2 linked regions of the Homo sapiens genome follow. The protein of the gene in region 2 purifies or fractionates together with the protein of the main gene of each other region. This does not show direct contact. Each region holds a gene or a part of one and is shown on either strand. Other genes may lie near its edges.

Region 1 (7,792 bases), on a different chromosome or scaffold from region 2:
CTCTACTAAAAATACAAAAATTAGCTGGGCATGGCAGAGTGCACCTGTAATCTCAGGTACTCGGGAGGCTGAGGCGAGGAGAATTGCTTGAACCCATGAGGCAGAGGCTGCAGTGAGCTGACATGGCACCACTGCACTCTAGCCTAGGCAACAGAGCAAGACTCCATCTAAAAAAATAAAAATAAATATGTAGAGACCAGGTCTTGCTATATTGCCCAGGTCTCAAATTCCTGGCCTCAAGTGATCCTCCCGACTTGACCTCCCAAAGTGTTGGGATTACAGGTGTGAGCCACTGTGCTGACCTGTTTTAACACTACTACTAGTAACTAGCACTTAGTTAGCACCTAATGTGTTCCAGGAACTGCTCTAAGTCCTTCATACATACTCATAGGTGAGTATTATTTGTTATTCCCATTTTTCAGATGAGGACGTTGAGGCATACAGAGATTTGCCAAAAGTCATGAACCCAGCTCGTTAGTCAAAGAGGCAGGCCAGGGAAGGGGTTGATGACGACGCTGCCGACTCACACTGTTCAGTCCATTTTCCATCGTTACCGCCAACCTCGGCCCTGTATCTTGACCCTACTCCACTTCTCTAGCCACAGCCTGGCATGGTACTTAATGTGGAGAAAGTCTGTTTTCTATACGTATTTGAGCTGTGATACCTTCCTTCTGATTGTAAAGATATTTTCTTATAGCTTCTTCAAGGATTGTCTATTTGAATTTCCAAAGATGACATTCAATTACTCTGCTACATCTTTTCCCCTCTCTTGGCCACATGACTTAACCACTCTGAGCCTCACTTTCATCATCTTTTAAATTAGAGGATCCAGCTAGATAACCTCTAACATCCCTGGTGGCTCAGATATCCAAACACACTCTTCGCCCTGTTTACACCTTGGAGGGAGCCACAATTACTCATATGAAGGTGCTTCCCAGCCTGTACCTGAAATACCAGCACCAGATCTTAGTGTGATCGTGAGACCACTTCCAGATGAGACCCCTTCCTCGCCAGAAAACACCCAGACACCCTGGGAGGAACAGCAAAAGCTGCTACACTGGAATTGACCTATCGTGGCTGGTCACATGTCTACTCTACTCTCGATTTCTCTACTCTGGCAATGGATTTGAATTTGAACTTCAGAGGTAAGGAACACAGAATAGGAAAGAACTGAAATGGCTCAACAGCAAAGCCACGTTTCCATGGCTTAAGAACCAATGAGAGAATCCGTTCCATGCTCTCTAACTTCCCATTTTTGGCTTGTGATACTGCTATTCAGTTTCAAATATTTTTCTTTTGAAACATCTTTATGTTCTGGCCTCAAATGATACAAACCCACACCTGGCCAGGCACAGTGGCTCACATGTAATCCCAACACTTTGGGAGGCCAACATGGGTGGATTACTTGAGTCCAGGAGTTCAAGACCAGCCTGGGCAACATGGTGAAACCTCACATCTACAAAATATACGCTCACACAAAAATCAGCTGGGTGTGGTGGTGTGCACCTGTAGTTTCAGCTACTCAGGAGGCTGAGATGGGAGGATTGCTTGAGCCCAGGAGGTTGAGGCTGCAGTAAGCCATGATTGCATCACTGCACTCCAGCCTGGGTGATAGAGTGAGACCCTGTCTCCATTAAAAAACTAAAACAGGCTGGGCGCGGTGGCTCAAGCCTGTAATCCCAGCACTTTGGGAGGCTGAGGCGGGTGGACCACGAGGTCAGGAGATCGAAACCATCCTGGCTAACATGGTGAAACCCCGTCTCTACTAAAAATACAAAAAATTATTCAGGCGTGGTGGCAGGCACCTGTAGTCCCAGCTGCTCGGGAAGCTGAGGCAGGAGAATGGCGTGAACCCGGGAGGCGGAGCTTGCAGTGAGCCAAGATTGTGCCACTGCACTCCAGCCTGGGCAAGAGAGAGACTCCATCTAAAAAAAAAAAAAAAAACAGAACCAAAAAAAACACACCTCTGCATTACAGAGGACAAAAAAATGTAGCAGAGTAATCAAATATCATCTTTGGAAATTCAAACAGACAATCCTTGAAGAAGATGTAACAAAATGTCTTCACAATCAGAGGAAGCCATCACAGCTCAACTATGTGTAGAAAACAGACCTGCTCCATGTTATGTGCAACCTGACCCACCAAACAAGCAGGTCAGGGTCAAATATAGCTATTTTTCTGGTGAATTCATCCAGCTTTGACTTTGGACTTTTACAAACATGCTCTTTCACAATGACAGGGCTGGAGCTGAATGCTATAAATGTGAGGCAGCTATTGTTATACTGTCAGCTAAACCACAATGACTTACACTCAGTGATGAATCTCAAGTTTGTTGATATTTCCCAGAGTTCCCAATGAGTACTAAATGTTATCTCTTTGTTCAAACATTATGAAATATTGTGATTTTTTTTCTTGTAGATTTCCTACTGATTTTCACATACGTGAAAGTGAATATTCTTGTGGCATTTATGGTAGTGATTTCCATCCTAGAAATCAGTGGATATATTCAATTCACCACGTCACAGCTGCCCAGGCATGATGGGAGGGGTTGGCAGTGGGGTGGGGAGTGCAAGGGGAAAGGGTCTCAGGTTCAAGACTCAGTAGCCTGAATACACAGCCTACGCGGTCGTGCTTCTGAACATTGAGAGAGAGAGCAAATGTTGTTTTGTTTTGTTTTGTTTTCAAGAATTTGGGATCAGGCTGAGCACAGTGGCTCACGCCTATAATCCCAACACTTTGGGAGGCTGAGGCAGGTGGATTACTCGAGGTCAGGAGTTTGAGACCAGCCTGACCAATATGGTGAAACCCCATCTTTACTTTAAAAAAAATAATACAAAGTTAGTTGTGGTGGTGCACGCCCGTAATTCCAGCTACTTGGGAGGTTCAGGCAGGGGAATCGCGTGAACCTGGGAGGTGGAGGTTGCAGTAAGCCAAGATCATGCCATTGCGCTTGAGTCTGAGCCACAGAGTGACGCTCCCTCTCAAAAAAAAAAAAAAAAAAGGACTTTGGGATCTGAAGACAGAGTATCAGCATGGAAAAAAGTCCAGCCTGCTTTTGGTTTGGTTTATTCTGAGATAATTCTGAATATCAGATTAAAATAATCAGAAAGGAAATGATCAATGGAAGGAGGTATGATTTTGAAAGTCACTGCTGTTTTTGGGAGAACATGCCATTGGGTTTTTTATTATTTATTTATTTTTTTCTTTTGAGACCAAGTCTTGCCCTGTTGCCCAGGTGGAATGCAGTGGCGTGATCTCAGCTCACTCTAACCTCCGCCTCCCCAGTTCAAGCAATTCTCATGCCTCAGCCTCCCAAGTAGCTGGGATTACAGGCGCATGCCACCACACCTGGCTAATTTTTGTATTTTTAGTAGAGACGGGGTTGCACTATGTTGGCCAGGCTGGTCTCAAACTCCTGACCTCAGGTCATCCACCCGCCTCAGTCTCCCAAAGTGCTGGGATTACAAGTGTGAGCCACCGCGCCCAGCTGCCATTGGGTCTTAATTCTCCAGAAACAGTATCTCAGTCAAGAATGCAAAGCTGTGGCAGGATTTTTCCATGAGGGGTCCACTGAGGCACTCACTGGCCAAGGTGGGCGCTCAACTAGTCCAACCTAGGCAAGGGAGGGGAGAATCTGTTTTCTCCCTTCCATTATTTCAGAAGTTATGTTTCTCCAGCAGACACACGGCTGTGCAATTTCGAAGACTGAGGGGAAACTAGGGAGGAAAATGCAGAAAACTCTCTGTTGCATGCCCTGTGAATTGGGCTTTAAATGTAGCAAGGAGCTCCAGGATCCCAGAAGTTGGCCTGGGGTGCTTGGTCCTGAGGATAAGACAACCTCCCTTGTATTGTAATTCTGCCCACAGCTGGAGCTTCCTATTTCAGTGTTGCATCCAAGAAGTTACATTTCCTGTTTGTTGCAAGAAAAATAGAATCTGACCAGGATGGAGGCTAGGCATGGGGGCTCACATCTGGAATCCCAGCAGTTTCGGAGGCTGAGGCAAGCAGATAGCTTGAGCCCAGGTGTTCAAGACCAGGATGAGCAACATGATGAAATCCCATCTCTACAAAAAATAGCCAGGCAGTGTAGTGCACACCTGTAGTCCAGCTACTCTGGAGGCTGAGGTGGGCAGATTGCTTGAGCCGGGGGAAGTTGAGGCTGCAATGAGCTTTGATCTCACCACTGCACTCCAATTCTGAGACTGGGGAGTATTGATTTGCCACTGACCTGAGCCCGGCTGATAGGGGCAGCAGGACAGACACTGTTACCTTAATCAAAGACATTCACGAAGCATTCTCACTGAAGATCTGCCCTAGTATCCTGCACAGCCACTTGCCTGGGTCTTTATAGGTAACAGGTAGACAGTCATCAAAGAGATAGGGGAAAACATGCACAATGAATTCTTTGCTCAGAAAAACCCTTCTGTGTCTTCTCCCACTTTTTCTAAATTTTTCCTGCTTTCATTTAGATCAAAGGATTTTGTTTCTTGGAATAGTTCTGCACTTGGTCCTTTAGAAAGGATGACAATTATCTGTAGGTCTCTCTGATTTTAAGATCAATAGAAATCAGCAAAAGCCAAAAAATAAAAAATAAAAATAAAATAAAAGCACACAAGCACATTCAAGCACATCCATCTGCCCCTGACTTGTCCTCACAGTAAGCAACTGCTTCTGACTTTGCTGTTTGAATAACCTCTGGGTGTTCGATCCACCCACACAGCTCAAGTTTGAGCTCCAGAACAAATATTTGTCCCAATTTTGAACAAAGTTAGAGAGTTTTTTCTTCTTTTTTCTTCTTTCTTAAAGCGAACTGTACTCCTCTGCTGTTCCTTTGAACTTGGTTCAGTAGGAAGAAGTGATATCCTCCCCAGACCATCTGCTTTGGGGAGCTTGGCAAAACTGTCCAGCAAAATGAAAAGACTCACGTGCTTTTTCATCTGCTTCTTTCTTTCTGAAGTATCAGGCTTCGAAATCCCCATAAATGGACTTTCTGAAGTAAGTACTTACAGATCACTCCTTGCTGTTGGCTTGTTCATGAGCTCAGTAAATCATCTATTGGAATCGCTATTCAATGGCCTTATTCTGTGTGTAATGGAAACTTAAGATAAAATTCATCTGAGTGCAAGTGTTTACTGTTATAATTACTGGAATGTATATTTACCTTTTAAAGCATTAACAGGTTTTGCATGAAAATTAAGTCAAGATCAATGGGCAGGCATCAGAGCGTAGCATTTATGGAGCAGAGCTGCTCACTCCTCACCTAAAAAATTGGGGGTAAGAATAGACCTAACCCAATGGTTTGCTTTGAGAATTAAATGACACAGTGTAAACTCTTCTAGCAGAGCGCCTGGACTAGTAAGTGCTTAATAATTACTAGCTGTTATGATGATGAAGAAATATTATCACTCTTTTACTAAGAGTATAAGAAAAGTCATTATCAAAGCACACTGTTTTTCATATCTAAGTGAACAGTGATATTTGTAATAAGAGCACTTTAAGTATTCCTATTAAAGCGGAAGATAGCAGGCAGGGTGGAAAAGTACAAGAATAATTCCCATGGAGTACAGGTCTCCACTTTTGTCCCTTAGCCATCTCCAATGTAAGGAAAGTCTTGGACTGAAAGTCTGTTTCTGAAAGTCATACAAGAGCTATTTTTATGCCAGAAAAGCGAAGCATGTTATGGGAACATCCCAGCAAATGCAAAGGCTTATAATACTTGCAGAGTGGATTACCTATAAAAATGCCAGAGAATATGACGGCATATTTACAAAGGGAAAATATCACTCTGTCTGCTTTGAAACTATCATATTTTCCAACACTTAAAAGCCACCAGAGTGTGTTAGAAATCTCAAATTGAAGCCAAGACATCCAAATGTGTTTGTGCTTTTTCAGTCATTTCTAACTGGCATTTCCTTTTAGAAAATACCTACATTTTTAACTTGGGGAGATGTATGGTTCATGTCTGTCCAGTCAGACACTGCAAATGCCTCCAGGGTCTACCCAGATACTTCCCCAGACACCCACCTAATCACTGGGTTGTTTTGATCTCTGTCTTACCACCTGCTGGCAAACTCAAAAATGAATTCCCATGTCCAACAAATGCGAAGGTGTTGTTACCCTCCATTTGGACACCTCTGAGACGTAACCAGCAAATAGAAATATACTAAAGAAATCATTTTATACAAAATTGTGATTGCCCAGAGGTAGAGGAAAGAATATAAAATAATGAATACCAACAGCTATCTCTTTGGCTCTAGATCTTTTGGAAATCATCATTCTCAGCAAAGTAACACAAGAAGGGAAAACCCAACACCGCATGTTCTCACTCATAAGTGGGAGTCGAACAACGAGAACACATGGACACAGGAAGGGGAACATCACACACTGGGGCCTGTCAGGGGGTGGGGGGCTAGGGGAGGGATAGCATTAGGAGAAATACCTGACGTAAATGATGAGTTAATGGGTGTAGCAAACCAACATGGCACATGTATACCTATGTAACAAATCTGCACGTTGTGCACATGTACCCCAGAACTTACAGTATAATTAAAAAAAAAAAAGTTAAAATCCTAATTTTTTTTAAGTTTGTAGACTATGAAGATCTTGTGGAACTGGCCCCAGGCAAATTTCAATTGGTGGCAGAGAACCGGAGATATCAGGTATAGTAAGGTTTACTCCCAAAAGGGGGAAAAAAAGTGAAAGAGATTATGGCAGAAGAAGACAAGTGTTAAGATGCCTTCTGCTAGATTTTCTTAAGAGTTTGTTTTTTAGCACAGAAGAGTCCAGACTTCTTACACCTTGGTGGAAGAGATCACCCAGGTGAAATAAAAAGAGAAACTCACACAACTGCTCAGCAGCCTTCACACCATAATGCTCAATTTAGTCCCTTAAAGAGTACACGACTCAGCACAGTGGCTCCCACTTATAATCACAGCATTTTCAGAGGCCAAGGAGGGAGGATCACTTGAGGCCAGGAGTTCCAGATCAGCCTGGGTAACATAGTGAGGCTCTACCTCTGCCACCCAGCTAATATATATATTAGCTGGCATGCACCTGTAATCCCAGCTATTTGAGAAGCTGAGATGGAGGATCACTTGAACCCAAGAGTTCGAGGCTGCAGTGAGCTATGATTGCACCAGCCTGGGCAACAGAGGGAGACGCTGTCCCCACTCCATTTAAAAAAAAAAAAAAAAAAAAGAATACATGGCTATGTGTTTTCTTCAAAACTTAAGATTCCGAAATTATTTCCTGCCTTGCCGGAAGGATTTCCTGTTAGGAAGACTTTTCTTATTTTAGCGATGACAGACACTCCCCCTTGCAGCCTCACAATCTCCTTCCTCTGGTCACTCTGAGGGCACCTGAGAAGGAGAATTGGCCACATTGGAAGTTGCAATCCTGGCGGCCACCAGCAGCAGTATAGACAAAACCCTCTAATTAAGGGGGTGAGTTTTCCAGAACACCAGGAAGGGCTTGGCTTCTTCCCCACGGAGCCCACATGCTGAGAGAGGAGGTATTTACGGAAGCAGCAACCCTAAGCTGATCAATGTCTTATTTTGTATGGGTGTGAATTTTTTACTTTCTGAAAATCCAGGATTTTTTTTTGTAGACTAATAATATTAAAATCCAATAAGCAAGACTTCATGTCACAATTTATTTAGCCACAAGAGAGAAAAATTTGTCATTGAGCATTGCATTCAAGAAGTCTACAAGAAGAGGTCAACCATTGACCTCACCATGTCACACAGCACAGAACCTCAGTTCACCCCGAATCAGGCAAGCTGAGCTTATATCC
Region 2 (2,674 bases):
TGCCATTGCACTCCAGCCTGGGTGAAAAAGAGCCAGAAAGAAAGGAAAGAGAGAAAAGAGAAAAGAAAGAGAGAAAAGACAGAAAGACAGGAAGGAAGGAAGGAAGGAAGGAAGGAAGGAAGGAAGGAAGGAAGGAAGCAAGGAAAGAAGGAAGGAAGGAAAGAAGGGAGGGAAGGAAGGAGAGAGAAAGAAAGATTGTTTGGTAAGGAGTAATGACATTCTCTTGCATTTAAAAGTGGCATATTTGCTTGAAATGGAAATAGAATTCTGGTCCCTTTTGCAACTACTGAAGAAAAAAAAAAGCAGTTTCAGCCCTGAATGTTGTAGATTTGAAAAAAAAAAAAATTGGAGCTATTGAGAGATCTGCCTCTGTAGGAGTATGGTCCCAGGCCCACAAAGTTAAAGTGCATCAGCCACAAATATGTGTCCATTTGAGTTTTGGTTCTGAGAATACTCCTCATAAAGATATAGAATCACTCCCTCCTCCTAACTCGCAAAAGGCTGAACAGTGTATAGTATGTTACATTTAAATAAAAACAATAAAAATGTTGGGAAAAGAAAATTAAAATATTGTCCTTGTTTGTTTTATTAGTCAGAAACTCTACCTGGTAATAAAGAGAGAAGCTCAAGTGTGTGCATGGCAGGATGTGGTTAAATGCCCCACAGCCCCAAACAACAACAACAGAAAAAAAAATTACTCAAACATTTGTAAGTTTTCTCTAATGTTTCACATGTGTGAGTTAGCTATCTTTACTCTAATAACAACCAAATGCTTTCAATCTTTTCTAAATATTCAGGTCCACCTAATTTACACAGTGGATAAAGAAAAATGAATTGGAAACGAGGATGGCTTATGAAACAATGGAAGACTTTTGGAGGAAAGCCAGGTGGCTGCAGAATCTGATTTCAAGGGGATGAATGACCAATGAATTTGATTTGAAAATTAGAGAGAAAAAATACATAATAATGCAAGTTGCTTCCAGGGCCCAAGCAAGTTTATGAACCCAATTTACATAGATCAGCATTAATGCTGCACAGTTCTAATAATTTGGATGCTGCCAATTCAAGGTTTGTGATTATTCAGTGAAGTAAAATTTACCTTTTTCATATTACTGAAGGGTTCAGCTGGTCCAAACTTTGTCTAAATAAAGTTATATATGTAGCTTAAAATATTTAAGAGAAGATGTCTAGTACATTAGAAGTAGGACATATACATGCAAACAGATACCATATTGATTAAGAGTTCTTGTTTATTTCATGAAGCAGGACTTTTCCAACTTAAACTGAAAAAAAAATAAAAAGGAAGAGGAATATCTTTGAAGGATGCTCAGGAGAAAAAGGAACTCTGAGTTCTATGAGTACTTAGAAATGAAGTAACGAAGATCTGCTTCTTCTCAGACATTCATTTTCTGTTACCCTTCATTGGTTTTATTTGGTTAGGCCAGATTGCTTCTAGTCTACTTCTTTCCTACTCCAAAACCCAAAACCCCAAACTCCTTTACTACAAGATCCAAAAAGGTAAACATCCTAGATATAACTCTTATTGGCCAGGTTTGGATAACATACCAACCTCTAGACCAATCAGTATAAGAGATTTGGGAATTGTGATTGACCAATCTTCAGTGACATGACCACAGAGAGGCAAGGTGAAGATTTTGGCAGCCCACACAACCGCAACTAGTGAAGAAGAGTACACCAAGGAGACAGCAGTGCTGCAGGTGCAAAAACCAAATGGTTGTTTGCTACATCTTATTAAATGAAGCTGTGACATAAAAACATTTTCTATTCCTATATTTCCCACCAATTCCAATTATTCTTCACCTGTTTGTTTGTCCAAGTTAGAGAGGTTTTAAGATCATTCTCTTTCATATGTTCTTTACCATTGAAAGATTACATTTGCATTGTTTTGTTTTAAGCCAAGAGTAGGGCCCTGGATATAGCTAGGCTCACTGTGGTTTTGCAAACTTTATATTGGGATGAATGCAAGTTTTCACTGAATAAAAAGCTGGTCCTCCTACTTCAACCTGTATCACAATATGATGTTATAAATGTTTCTTTCAGTTTATCCCAAGAGTATGTGCTAGTATTTTCAAGTGTATCGACATATAGAAAAAATCTGAAACCCTGATGTCATTCATTGTTTAAGTGTAAAATAAAAAAAAAACAGAAAAAAACCTGCTTTGTCTTTTACTACATTCAACATGTGACAAAAGAAAACTTTATCACCTAAACTTTATCTATTTGTCTTTTTGCAGAATAGTAAAATAAAACACAAAATGCCCTTGCAAGTGAATAATCTTTGGAAAACACCTTCATAAATACCATGTATTAGTTAAAATGGAATAATCATGATCAAACTAATGAGGTCAAACGAATTGGTCTTGTTCCTAAGTGGCTAATAATGAACATTTCCATGAGCCTGTTCCATGATAGCAACAAAGGGCAACAATTCCATAAACAGAGAAAAGCCACATGCCAAACATACATGCACGTGGCACGTATTATCTTACACATTTTTATTATCCGCCACAAAAGAGTCCATGTTCATTGTTTAATACAGGCAATTGCATCCTCTAGAGATCAGCACAACAAATGAAGGATCAAAACACCCCATGTTCCTCATTACAACTGTAAATTGAACATATGCCTTCATACAACTTAGGCAGTGACCCCA

The links.
Region 1: the proteins of FGF10 (region 2) and ITIH2 purify together in Homo sapiens (affinity purification with mass spectrometry; 3 studies listed by BioGRID and IntAct, with this or other methods). This does not show direct contact.

Annotation. Positions count from the first base shown.
Region 1 is NC_000010.11:7,698,524-7,706,315, forward strand, and holds the start of ITIH2 (inter-alpha-trypsin inhibitor heavy chain H2 precursor), read left to right. Parts: upstream 1-4,792; 5' UTR 4,793-4,911; coding exon 4,912-4,995; intron 4,996-6,584; coding exon 6,585-6,659; intron 6,660-7,792. UniProt on the Homo sapiens protein: May act as a carrier of hyaluronan in serum or as a binding protein between hyaluronan and other matrix protein, including those on cell surfaces in tissues to regulate the localization, synthesis and degradation of hyaluronan which are essential to cells undergoing biological processes.
Region 2 is NC_000005.10:44,299,747-44,302,420, reverse strand, and holds the end of FGF10 (fibroblast growth factor 10 precursor), read left to right. Parts: 3' UTR 1-2,174; downstream 2,175-2,674. UniProt on the Homo sapiens protein: Plays an important role in the regulation of embryonic development, cell proliferation and cell differentiation. Required for normal branching morphogenesis. May play a role in wound healing.